3 linked regions of the Homo sapiens genome follow. The protein of the gene in region 1 purifies or fractionates together with the protein of each later gene. This does not show direct contact. Each region holds a gene or a part of one and is shown on either strand. Other genes may lie near its edges. The genes, in order: TBC1D4, TLE3 and PEX7.

Region 1 (3,500 bases):
AAATTTTAAGTGAGAAAGTAAAACCATAATTTTAAAAATTGCTTATTTGGCTCTGCTTGTAGCCATCTGTGTTTCTTCAGCATGCAATTGTTATTTTCTCATATCTTCCTCTTACTGGCTCTGCAGAATTAATCTTATTGGTTCCTAGAAAAAAAAATCACTTTTAAGCATATGTGGGAGAAAACATTTTAAAACCTGGCACTCTTGCAAGTTCTAAATGACATGAGTAATCATTTCACAAGGAAGCTAACATCCCCCTTCATTTTTGTGGCCCTAGAAAAATGCCCATACCAATATAGACAGCTTTGATGTGAAGACGGATTTGTTTCTGTGTATAGAACTCTCCTTTTAGTGATGCAGGACTCACATTGCCAGCTCAAGTGTCTCTGTGGTAATTTTATACCTAGAGGTATATTTTAGAGGGGAATTTATTTGAAATTGACTTGACCCTTTATTTTCCTTGATATTTTTAGATATTGAAAAAGAAAAGTGGTTTACATGGCTCATGGAGGTATTTTAAGAGCAGAGAGCGAACGATAGTTGAAAAAGCAGTTTTCTTCTGAATGACAGTCTGAATGTAAAGTCAAACAAACCCAAAAAGTCCCTCCAGTGTCATAAGAAAAGCAGAAATAAACCTGTTTATAGACTATGAAGATTTTCTTTTAAATAATATAATATGTCTTACAGACTTCTGGTTTCATTTAGAAGGTAGTCTTTATATGAATTAGAATTTGCCTTGCTTTATAGTCAGAATAAAATTTATATTCCATTTTCCTGGTATTTCTCCTGGGTACATCATTGGTTTGTGGATTTTTATTGTATTTTTTTTTTTTTTTTTTTTTTTTTGCTGGAAAGAAGTACTGGTTAGCATAAAATGTTTCCTCCCATATCGTATATGTGAAGATGGTATGGTGGCCTGGCAGAACTTGGGGTGAGAGAGGGAGAGACTCTTAGTTACATGGTGACTCTAAGCAACTCTCACTGGTTTGGGAAAGAGTGTCTGTTTATTCTTGGAGGTCACTGAATTGCAATTTCACTGTTGTCTCCAAGGCATGAGGACATTTCAAAAAATATTTTCCTTCTTTTCCTCTGCAGGAAGGACGTTTCCTACTCACCCTTACTTTTCAGTACAGCTTGGGCCAGGACAGCTGTCACTGTTTAACCTCCTGAAAGCCTATTCTTTGCTGGACAAAGAAGTGGGATACTGTCAGGGGATCAGCTTTGTGGCTGGAGTCCTGCTTCTGCACATGAGTGAAGAGCAAGCCTTTGAAATGCTGAAATTCCTCATGTATGACCTCGGCTTCCGCAAGCAGTACAGACCTGACATGATGTCGCTGCAGGTGAGGCACTTGTGCTTCCCGAGGAAGGTGTGAGACTATTACCAGAAATCCTGGCCCTCTTCTCAATTATTACAGTTCAGATTTAAAGAAATGTAGAGCCATTGTCTTAGAACTTGGGTAAAGATTGGGGCATGTTTTAGTTCACTTAGTGTGGGATTTGCTATTTAGGTAAACTTCTAAGTGTATGAGACCCAGAGGCAGAATACCTTTTCCATAAAATTCCTGAAGTAAGTAAATAAGTAATTTAAGAAAGGTAGGTGATGAGGACCCAGTCCTTTATGCCCTAAGTCTATGGGTTACATGGAGAAGGTATCAAATCATCTTTATTCACTTTTTCTCAACTTCTCAGTTGAAAAGGCTCACAGATCTTTTGTTTACAATCTGAAAGTATCTTTATCCCTTTACTTTTGAGTACACAAATAGCAGATACCATGTTATGGTTCTTTTTGAACTTATCATTGATATCTCCCCTCCTTTATCTTCATGTAAGATAGGCCTTTACAGAGGAAAAAGTGTGAAAGCCAGTGGTGCCTTTTCAGTCTGCTTTGTGTGTGTGTGTGTGTATGTGTGTGTGTGTGTGATGGAATCTTGCTTTGTTGCCCAGGCTGGAGTGCAGTGGCACGATCTCGGCTCACTGCAATCTCTGCCTCCCGGGTTCAAGCCATTCTGCTGCCTCAGCCTCCCCAGTAGCTGGGATTACAGGCAGGTGCCACCATGCCTGGCTAATTTTTTTGTATTTCTAGTAGAGATGGGGTTTCACCATGTTGGCCAGGCTGGTGTTGAACTCCTGACCTCAGGTGATCCGCCCGCCTCAGCCTCCCAGAATGCTGGGATTACAGGCTTGAGCCACTGAGTCTGCTTTTCTTAGCAGGCTCTGAAGAAGCACCATTAAGATTTTCCAGGTATTTTGAGTGGGGTATTAACTGCCACTGCTGTCTTTAGCCTACCTCAGACTCCCTGTTTGCACATTTCTCTCCTAGTTTTCACTTCTCTAAGTGGGTTGGTTGCTAATAAGCAGTTTAAATTTTGTCTATAGATACTTAAACAACCACTGCCTGGCAATTTAAAGCTTTCAGTGGTTAAAAATATAAAAGAAGACTTTAAAGAGGATTCTCAGGTTTTTCCTCCCTTGAAATGAGGTATGCATGACTCCCAGTTCATCATAATACTGTGCTTTAGATAAGAAGTAATAGTTTAAAGATGCTTTTAAAATATACTATTTTTTTCTGTTTCCCAGAGATGAGTTTTTTGCCTTTAATATCTCAGTTGCCAATGTATAACAAAAGAATTGTATTTTTAGTCTGAGCGTTATAGTAAATGATATTTTTTGAGAGTATGAATGGAGATGAAGTATTCCATTTTTCTTTACTTTCTGAAGGTAAAATTTTGACTGGGGAGATAGGGCTTTGCTATCAACATTAGGTTTTCTGGTGTGAGTTCATATGATTTGATTCCTCATTGATGACTATTCGTAGGTTTAACAAGTCAAATAACAACTGTGGAAAGTTTTATTTTTTATTCCTAAAGAGTTTACCTGTATCTTTTTATCTTTTTATCGTTTTTTTTTTTTTTGGAGACGGAGTCTTGCTCTGTCACCCAGGCAGGAGTGCAGTGGCGCGATCTTGGCTCACTGCAACCTCCACCTCCTGGGTTCAAGTGATTCTCCTGCCTCAGCCTCCCGAGTAGCTGGGATTACAGGCATGCACTACCATACCCTGCTAAATTTTTTGTATTTTTAGTAGAGTTGGGGTTTCACTGTGTTGGGCAGGCTGGTCTCAAACTTCCGGACCTCAGGTGATCCACCTGCCTTGACCTCCCAAAGTGCTGGGATTACAGGCGTGACCCACTGTGCCTGGTCACCTGTATCTTAATATCAGATAGGAATCAGATGGTCTTGTAAGGAATTCAATAATTCTGATTTTCAGAAACAACGGTTTGGTAGCTATTATTAGAATTTCAAAGATACAGGGAAGTACCTGTGAGTAGTGTTTGATCTGGGTCCACAGATAAAAGGATAATAGCTATCAGTTTAAAAATACAATGATATTTCAACTTAAAAATTATTCATCAATTTGACATTACAAAAATTCATGTAAATCGGATTTATACATTCATTTAATATGGACTGTAAGTACCAAGAAGTATTTTATGTCTATAATT
Region 2 (3,732 bases), on another chromosome or scaffold:
TGAGACCCTAGTGGAAGCATGGCTGTTGTGTTTCCCCTGTGTCAGGCTGTGCAGGGCTGAGAGCTGGGACAGAGGGAAGGGGAGGATATGGTGCAGGGCCTCAGCGGTCTTGCACCCAGCCCTCTTCAGCCACATGGCTGCTGTGTGGCTTTGGACACATTGAGCACCCAAAGGACACTCAGCTGTGTTTCTGTGAGAGGAGGCAAGTTACTATCCCACACAGATGGGTGGGAATGACCAGGTGAGAGCAGCACACTGACTGTGAAGGATGGTGGATGTAAAACCAGCTGGGAAGAAGGTTCTGGCTTCAGAGAGAAGCAGAAGGGCAGGCTGTGGGGGCAGGGGCTTAGAACTGCTATGATGGAGCGGGTGTCAGTGCGGCTGCCCAGTGGGTACAGGAGTGGAGTAACCCGGGGCCTGGGCTAGGGGACAGCCTCACGGGGAGACCGTGTTGAGCTGGAGTGGAGCCTGTTGAAGGGCAGGGCTGGAGTAGAAAGCATGGACTTTGGGGTTTGGCCTGGCTTCAGGTCCTGGCCAGTAGAAGGACAGGGTGGTTTGGGCTCAGTCAGGGGTGGGGAAAGTGTGGCCTCTTACTGACCAGTTGGCTTCTCTCTTGGTTGCAGGACAGTGATGGAGACAAGAGTGATGATCTGGTGGTGGATGTTTCCAATGAGGTATGGGCAGGCCCGGTCGCAAGGGGGCTCTTGGTTTGGCATGGTTTGGAATTATTCCTCCCCAGGGTGGGATCTATTCTGTCTGTTCTAGTATTACTGGCAGCCTGAGCAGGGAGACAAGGCCTCCAGTCTTGGGGTCTCAGGGGGTCAAGAGGAGCAGGGCAGGGCTTTGCTGCATGGTGTCTGGGCATTTATGGGCCTGGAGGGCCTCCTGCAATGGGTCTCCAGAGAGACACCCCCAAAGATCCCAGGTAGGGGCCATCTTCTATTCCCCGTGATCCTCCGTCCCCCCAGGGTCTCAGCCTCAGGGGCCTGAGGAGGAGCTGGAGAGCATCTACATTTGGCCAAACCCAGCCATGCTGATTGAAGTCCTGAACTTGTGTTTGACATTGGGAAGACCATCCTTCCACCCTCCCTAGGCCTCAGTCAGACCAGATGGTTAAGAGCTAGTTTTTCCTCACTGTGGGGCCCCCAGTCTTTCAGCCAAGCTCGTCTTCCCATCGCCCATGCCCTCTCTCTTCCCACTCCCAGAGCAGGGAAGCCTCGAGGCTGGCTGTTGCTTTCAGTGCATCTCTGCATCACTTGTGTTTTCAGGACCCCGCAACGCCCCGGGTCAGCCCGGCACACTCCCCTCCTGAAAATGGGCTGGACAAGGCCCGTAGCCTGAAAAAAGATGCCCCCACCAGCCCTGCCTCGGTGGCCTCTTCCAGTAGCACACCTTCCTCCAAGACCAAAGACCTTGGTCATGTATGTGGGGTCTGGGTGGAAGGGAGTGGGAAGGGAGCGGCAGGGACTGGAGCTGGGGTGGTGCCGATTGGCAGGCAGAGGGGTGGAGTGGGAGAAGCTGGGTGGGTGATTGGCCCCGGTTTACCTTCTGTGCCTGCTGGGCCTGTGCTAATGAGTTAACGTTTCTGAGCCTCGGTTGCTACGTCTGTAAAATGGGAGTGATCACCCCAGTCCCTGCCAAACAAGGTTGGGCAAGGATTGAGAGGCTGTTCGGCAGAAGCTTCATAAGGGTCTGGCTCTGGGCTTCACGTTGGGACCGGCACCAGTTGTGCCCGGCTCCTAGGAGAATGGAAGCCTCATGGCCTCCCTTGTTCTGCATCTCCCCTCTTCAGAACGACAAATCCTCCACCCCTGGGCTCAAGTCCAACACACCAACCCCAAGGAACGACGCCCCAACTCCAGGCACCAGCACGACCCCAGGGCTCAGGTCGATGCCGGGTAAACCTCCGGGCATGGACCCGATAGGTATAATGGGTAGGCACCATGGGCTGGGTTAATCTGATTGGGGGGAGGGGGTCTGCTCTTGGCCAGGGCAGGGGTGACACACACGCATGGGATAGAGCACAGGCAGTGTCTCCCAGGGCCTGCCCCTGGGGACTTCACGGTCAGATTTGAGGAGGTGACACCAGGGTTTCTGGGACCCCTGCTGGGCCAGACATGAAAGCAGCATCAGACGGGTCAGGGCTCCCAAAATCTGTTCCCACCCCTGTCATTAGTCCAGTGAGGCTCTAAGCAAGCCCATTTGGGCCTCCATATCCTGCTCTGTAAAAAGAGGTGGGTGCATCTGCCAAGCTCTAAGCTTCTTTGGCTCTGAAGGCAGGGATCCCACTTGGGTGGGTTCAGTCTGAGAGGACTGCCTGGAGCAGGCAGCTTAAGAATGCAGGGAGGGTTATTGCTGGGTGAGGCGGCCATGGCCATGTCCCAATCCACCTAAGGCCCACCTCCCTGACGCCCACCCCTCGCAGCCTCGGCTCTGCGCACGCCCATCTCCATCACCAGCTCCTATGCGGCGCCCTTCGCCATGATGAGCCACCATGAGATGAACGGCTCCCTCACCAGTCCTGGCGCCTACGCCGGCCTCCACAACATCCCACCCCAGATGAGCGCCGCCGCCGCTGCTGCAGCCGCTGCCTATGGCCGATCGCCAATGGTGAGCTTTGGAGCTGTACGTAGACCTTTTGGCTCCTTTCTTGGGGACTGGGCGTGGTGTGGGGAGCCAGTGGTTGGACGGGTGCTCCCCACATGCTAAAGGGGCCCCTCAGGGTCTCAAGGCCAGGCAGCTGCCCCTGTGGGAAGGTGTATCGGAAACAATTGAGACTTGGCTGGAAGGGTACACTCTTTGGGGCCAGCAGACCTGAGTTCCATCCCCCACTGGCCTGTGAGCCGCCCTGTGACCTCATGCAAGGCAGCCTCCCTTTTAGTCTGCAAAACGGGGCTGACACCTGGCTTTCCCAGCTCTGGGGGGTAGGAATCCCAGGGCAAGTCAGGTGATGTCCATGGAGCAGGGGTCTCGTAGATGGGACTGGTTGTACAAGACTTTCTATTGTGGTGAATAAATAATAAGAGTTAGGGGTCGAGCGCAGTGGCTCACGCCTGTAATCCCAGCACTTTGGGAGGCCAAGGCGGGTGGATCACCTGGGGTCAGGAAATCGAGACCAGCCTGGCCAGCCAACGTGGTGAAACCTCATCTCTACTAAAAATACAAAAATTAGCCGGGCGTGGTGGCAGGCGCTATTCGGGAGGTGAAGGCAGGAGACTCACTTGAACCTGGGAGGCAGAGGTTGCAGTGAGCCAAGATTGCACCACCGCGCTCCAGCTTGGGCGGCAGAGCGAGACTCCATCTCAAAAAAATAAAAATAAAAAGAAGAGTTAGGGTTGGCGGGGAGAGGGGCCCTTTTTCAGGAGACAGTTTTCCTTTTTACCTCCTGGACCTGGGGTGGCCTCCTCTCCACTGGCAGGCCCACTAGGACCACAGGAGAGGAAAGAAGTAGGGCAGGGCCAGCTCTGCCTTGCAGAACAGGGAGGATGCTGGTTCACAGTGGGGTCTGCACTGTCACCCCTTCCCTGCCACGGGCTGTCCTGGGCCTGTGTCTCCTCTGAATCAATGGGCTCTGCTCTGCTCAGCTTGTCTCTTGGGTTACAAAGTGGCAGAGCCGTGCAGGTAGGACCCCGGGTGGGTGGTGGAGGAGGCAGGGGTGGGGGTGTGTGGCAGCACGGCTGATGGAGGGCTGTCTTGCCTTGCTTTACAGGTTGGTTTTGACCCTCACCCCCC
Region 3 (2,653 bases), on another chromosome or scaffold:
GAAGTTCCTACATAGCAACCTTGGAGAATCTAGAGCCTCTTTGTTAGTTAGTAAAGTGCTTTTTTCTTACCTTATTATTATTTTCTTTATTGTTAGCTTGCTTAAATTTGTAGAACCAGATAGGGCTTAATTAACAAATAGAGGAATACTATTTTCATCAATTTGAATTAATCTATTCATAATTCTATATCATTGCAGTTTTAGATCTATCTTAATCCAATTAAGTATAGATTTATGAACATTTGCTGAATCAGTGGCCTTGACATTTGGTAGTTATTATAAGTCCTGAATAAATAAGAAGCTGGATTGGAGAGTGCCGAATAAGGTTTCAGAAACATAATTTATAGATACCTTGCACTAGAAACCTAAGTCTTATTTCTCTGATTCTCTTCTCTCCAGTAGCGGATGCTTAACATGTGGGAAGGCCCAGCACTTGAAAAAAATAGGCATAGATGAGACAGGGGTAATTTAACATAATGATCTTTGTGTCCTATGGTATAAAAACTGAAAACTGCAAGATTAGGCAAATAATGGTTTTCAGTTTGCCTTTTCTATGAGGCACTGTTTTAGTGGATACATTCAACAGGTTTAGGTTCTGGCTGTAGCTCTGCTACTCTATTGTGAACATGAGGACAGAGTTAACCTCTGAAATTGTAATCTATGAAATTAATTTGTTGAGCCAATATTCATTGAGTTATGTTCTAATAAGACATGGTCCATGCCCTCAAAGAGCTGAAGACAACTCTTTGTCTTCAGTTGGGAAAATAAGTACAATCAAGTATTATGGGTACAATGAATGACTTCATAGAGGAGATGATACCTAAACTGATTTTTTAAAAAAGAGACATCTCTGGCAGAGCAAGGCAAAGGGGACAGAGGAGCAGACAGAAAGGGAGGGAGAAGAGGAGTTATTAAAGGGAAGCGATCAGTAAAGGAACAAGAGCGAAGAGGCATAAGCAGCATGCTTGGATTTGAGGTGTGAGCCCGGTGCAATGAGAAATGAAATGGGAACAACCAGATCTTGAAGAGTGAGGTTTTTAAATTTAAAAGTTTGACTAAAAAGTCTATAATGCTCTCTGTAGCTTGGATTCTGATCTCAGAATATTGGTAGTGAATGATTGGCTATCACTATTCAAAATTAGTGATAGCCAAGAAATTACATTAGTCAAAACGAGGTTTCTCTTGTGTAATTTTCAGCCTTTGTAATAAGCATGAAAGGCTGGGAAATGGAGTGCAAATACTTTTGGTCAAAAGCACTCTCTTGCTACTTCATCTTTCATTTTACTGCCTACCTTGTTTCTTTTCTTCTTTTTTTTAAATTGTGGAAAATTTTGAAAACATACAAAGTAACAGAATCAGATAACGAACTTCATTACTTAGCTTGAACAACTATCAACATTCTTATTTTATTTATTCCTGTACTCTCACACATCGTTTAGTTATCGCTAACATTATTTTTACTATTTTTAGGTATAATTCACATATATTGAAATTTACAAATCTTAGATATACATTTTTGACAAATAGATACGTCTGTGAAATTCACATCATCCCAGTTATTGGAAACTGGGAAAGCCCCCAGTTTCCTTTTTACCCCTTTCCAATCTCCCCTATCCCCACCCTTCCCTCCAGGTGAGAAGAGTAACATTGTTCTGACTTTTTGTTTGTTTGTTTGTTTACCTTAGATGAGTTTTGCCTGTCTTAGAATTCTATAAGGAACTCTTCTGTATGTCCTCACTTGTTTCTGGCCTCTTACCTGTGAGCTTCACCCGTGGTACTGAGCCTGTTAGCAATTCCTCCCTTTGTTTTGCTGAGCACATGCTGTTGTATGAATTTACTACAATTTGTTACCGATTCTTTTGTTAGTGGGTATTTTGGTTGTTTTCCTTTTTTTTTAGACAGAGTCTCACTCTGTTGCCTAGGCTGGAGTGCAGTGGCATGATCTCGGCTCACTGCAACCTCTGCCTCCCAGGTTGAAGCGATTCTCCCACCTCAGCCTCCCTAGTAGCTGGGATTACAGGTGCACACCACCACACCTGGCTCATTTTATGTATTTTAGGTAGAGGTGGGGTTTCACCATGGTGCCCAGGCTGGTCTCAAACTCCTGACCTGAGGTGATCCATCTGCCTCAGCCTCCTAAAATGCTGGGATTACAGGTATGAACCACTTTGCCCAGCCTTGTTTTCGATTTTTTGCTATCGTGAATGAAGTTGCTATGAACATTCGTGTCTACATTGTTTTGCAAACATATGTTTTCATTTTTCTTGGACAAATATCTGGGAGTGGAATTACTGGGTCAAAAGATAGGTATGTGTTTAACTTGGTAAGAAACGGCCAAATTGTTTTCCAAAATGGTGGTACCATATACCTTCCCTACCAGCAATGTATGTGATCACAGCTGTTCCACATCCCTGCTGACATTTGGTGTTGTCAATCTTTAATTTTAGCCATAATGTGAATATATGGTGGTATCTCATTGTCATTTTTATTTGCATTTCCCTAATCCCTAATGATGTTGAGCACTTTTTTATGTGCTTACTTTTGCCCATCATTTTTCATTAGATTGCCTTTTATTATTGAGTTGTATTGGTTCTTTATGTATTCTTGATACAAGTTGTCAGGTGTATATTTTATGAATATTTTATATAACTGT

The links.
Region 2: the proteins of TBC1D4 (region 1) and TLE3 fractionate together in Homo sapiens (co-fractionation; one large-scale study listed by BioGRID). This does not show direct contact.
Region 3: the proteins of TBC1D4 (region 1) and PEX7 purify together in Homo sapiens (co-immunoprecipitation; one large-scale study listed by IntAct). This does not show direct contact.

What each region holds. Positions count from the first base shown.
Region 1 is NC_000013.11:75,297,170-75,300,669, reverse strand, and holds part of TBC1D4 (TBC1 domain family member 4), read left to right. Parts: intron 1-1,095; coding exon 1,096-1,340; intron 1,341-3,500.
Region 2 is NC_000015.10:70,056,352-70,060,083, reverse strand, and holds part of TLE3 (transducin-like enhancer protein 3), read left to right. Parts: intron 1-623; coding exon 624-674; intron 675-1,268; coding exon 1,269-1,421; intron 1,422-1,792; coding exon 1,793-1,925; coding exon of another isoform or gene 1,926-1,934; intron 1,935-2,425; coding exon 2,426-2,625; intron 2,626-3,709; coding exon 3,710-3,732. UniProt on the Homo sapiens protein: Transcriptional corepressor that binds to a number of transcription factors. Inhibits the transcriptional activation mediated by CTNNB1 and TCF family members in Wnt signaling.
Region 3 is NC_000006.12:136,909,529-136,912,181, forward strand, and holds part of PEX7 (peroxisomal biogenesis factor 7), read left to right. Parts: intron 1-2,653. UniProt on the Homo sapiens protein: Receptor required for the peroxisomal import of proteins containing a C-terminal PTS2-type peroxisomal targeting signal. Specifically binds to cargo proteins containing a PTS2 peroxisomal targeting signal in the cytosol.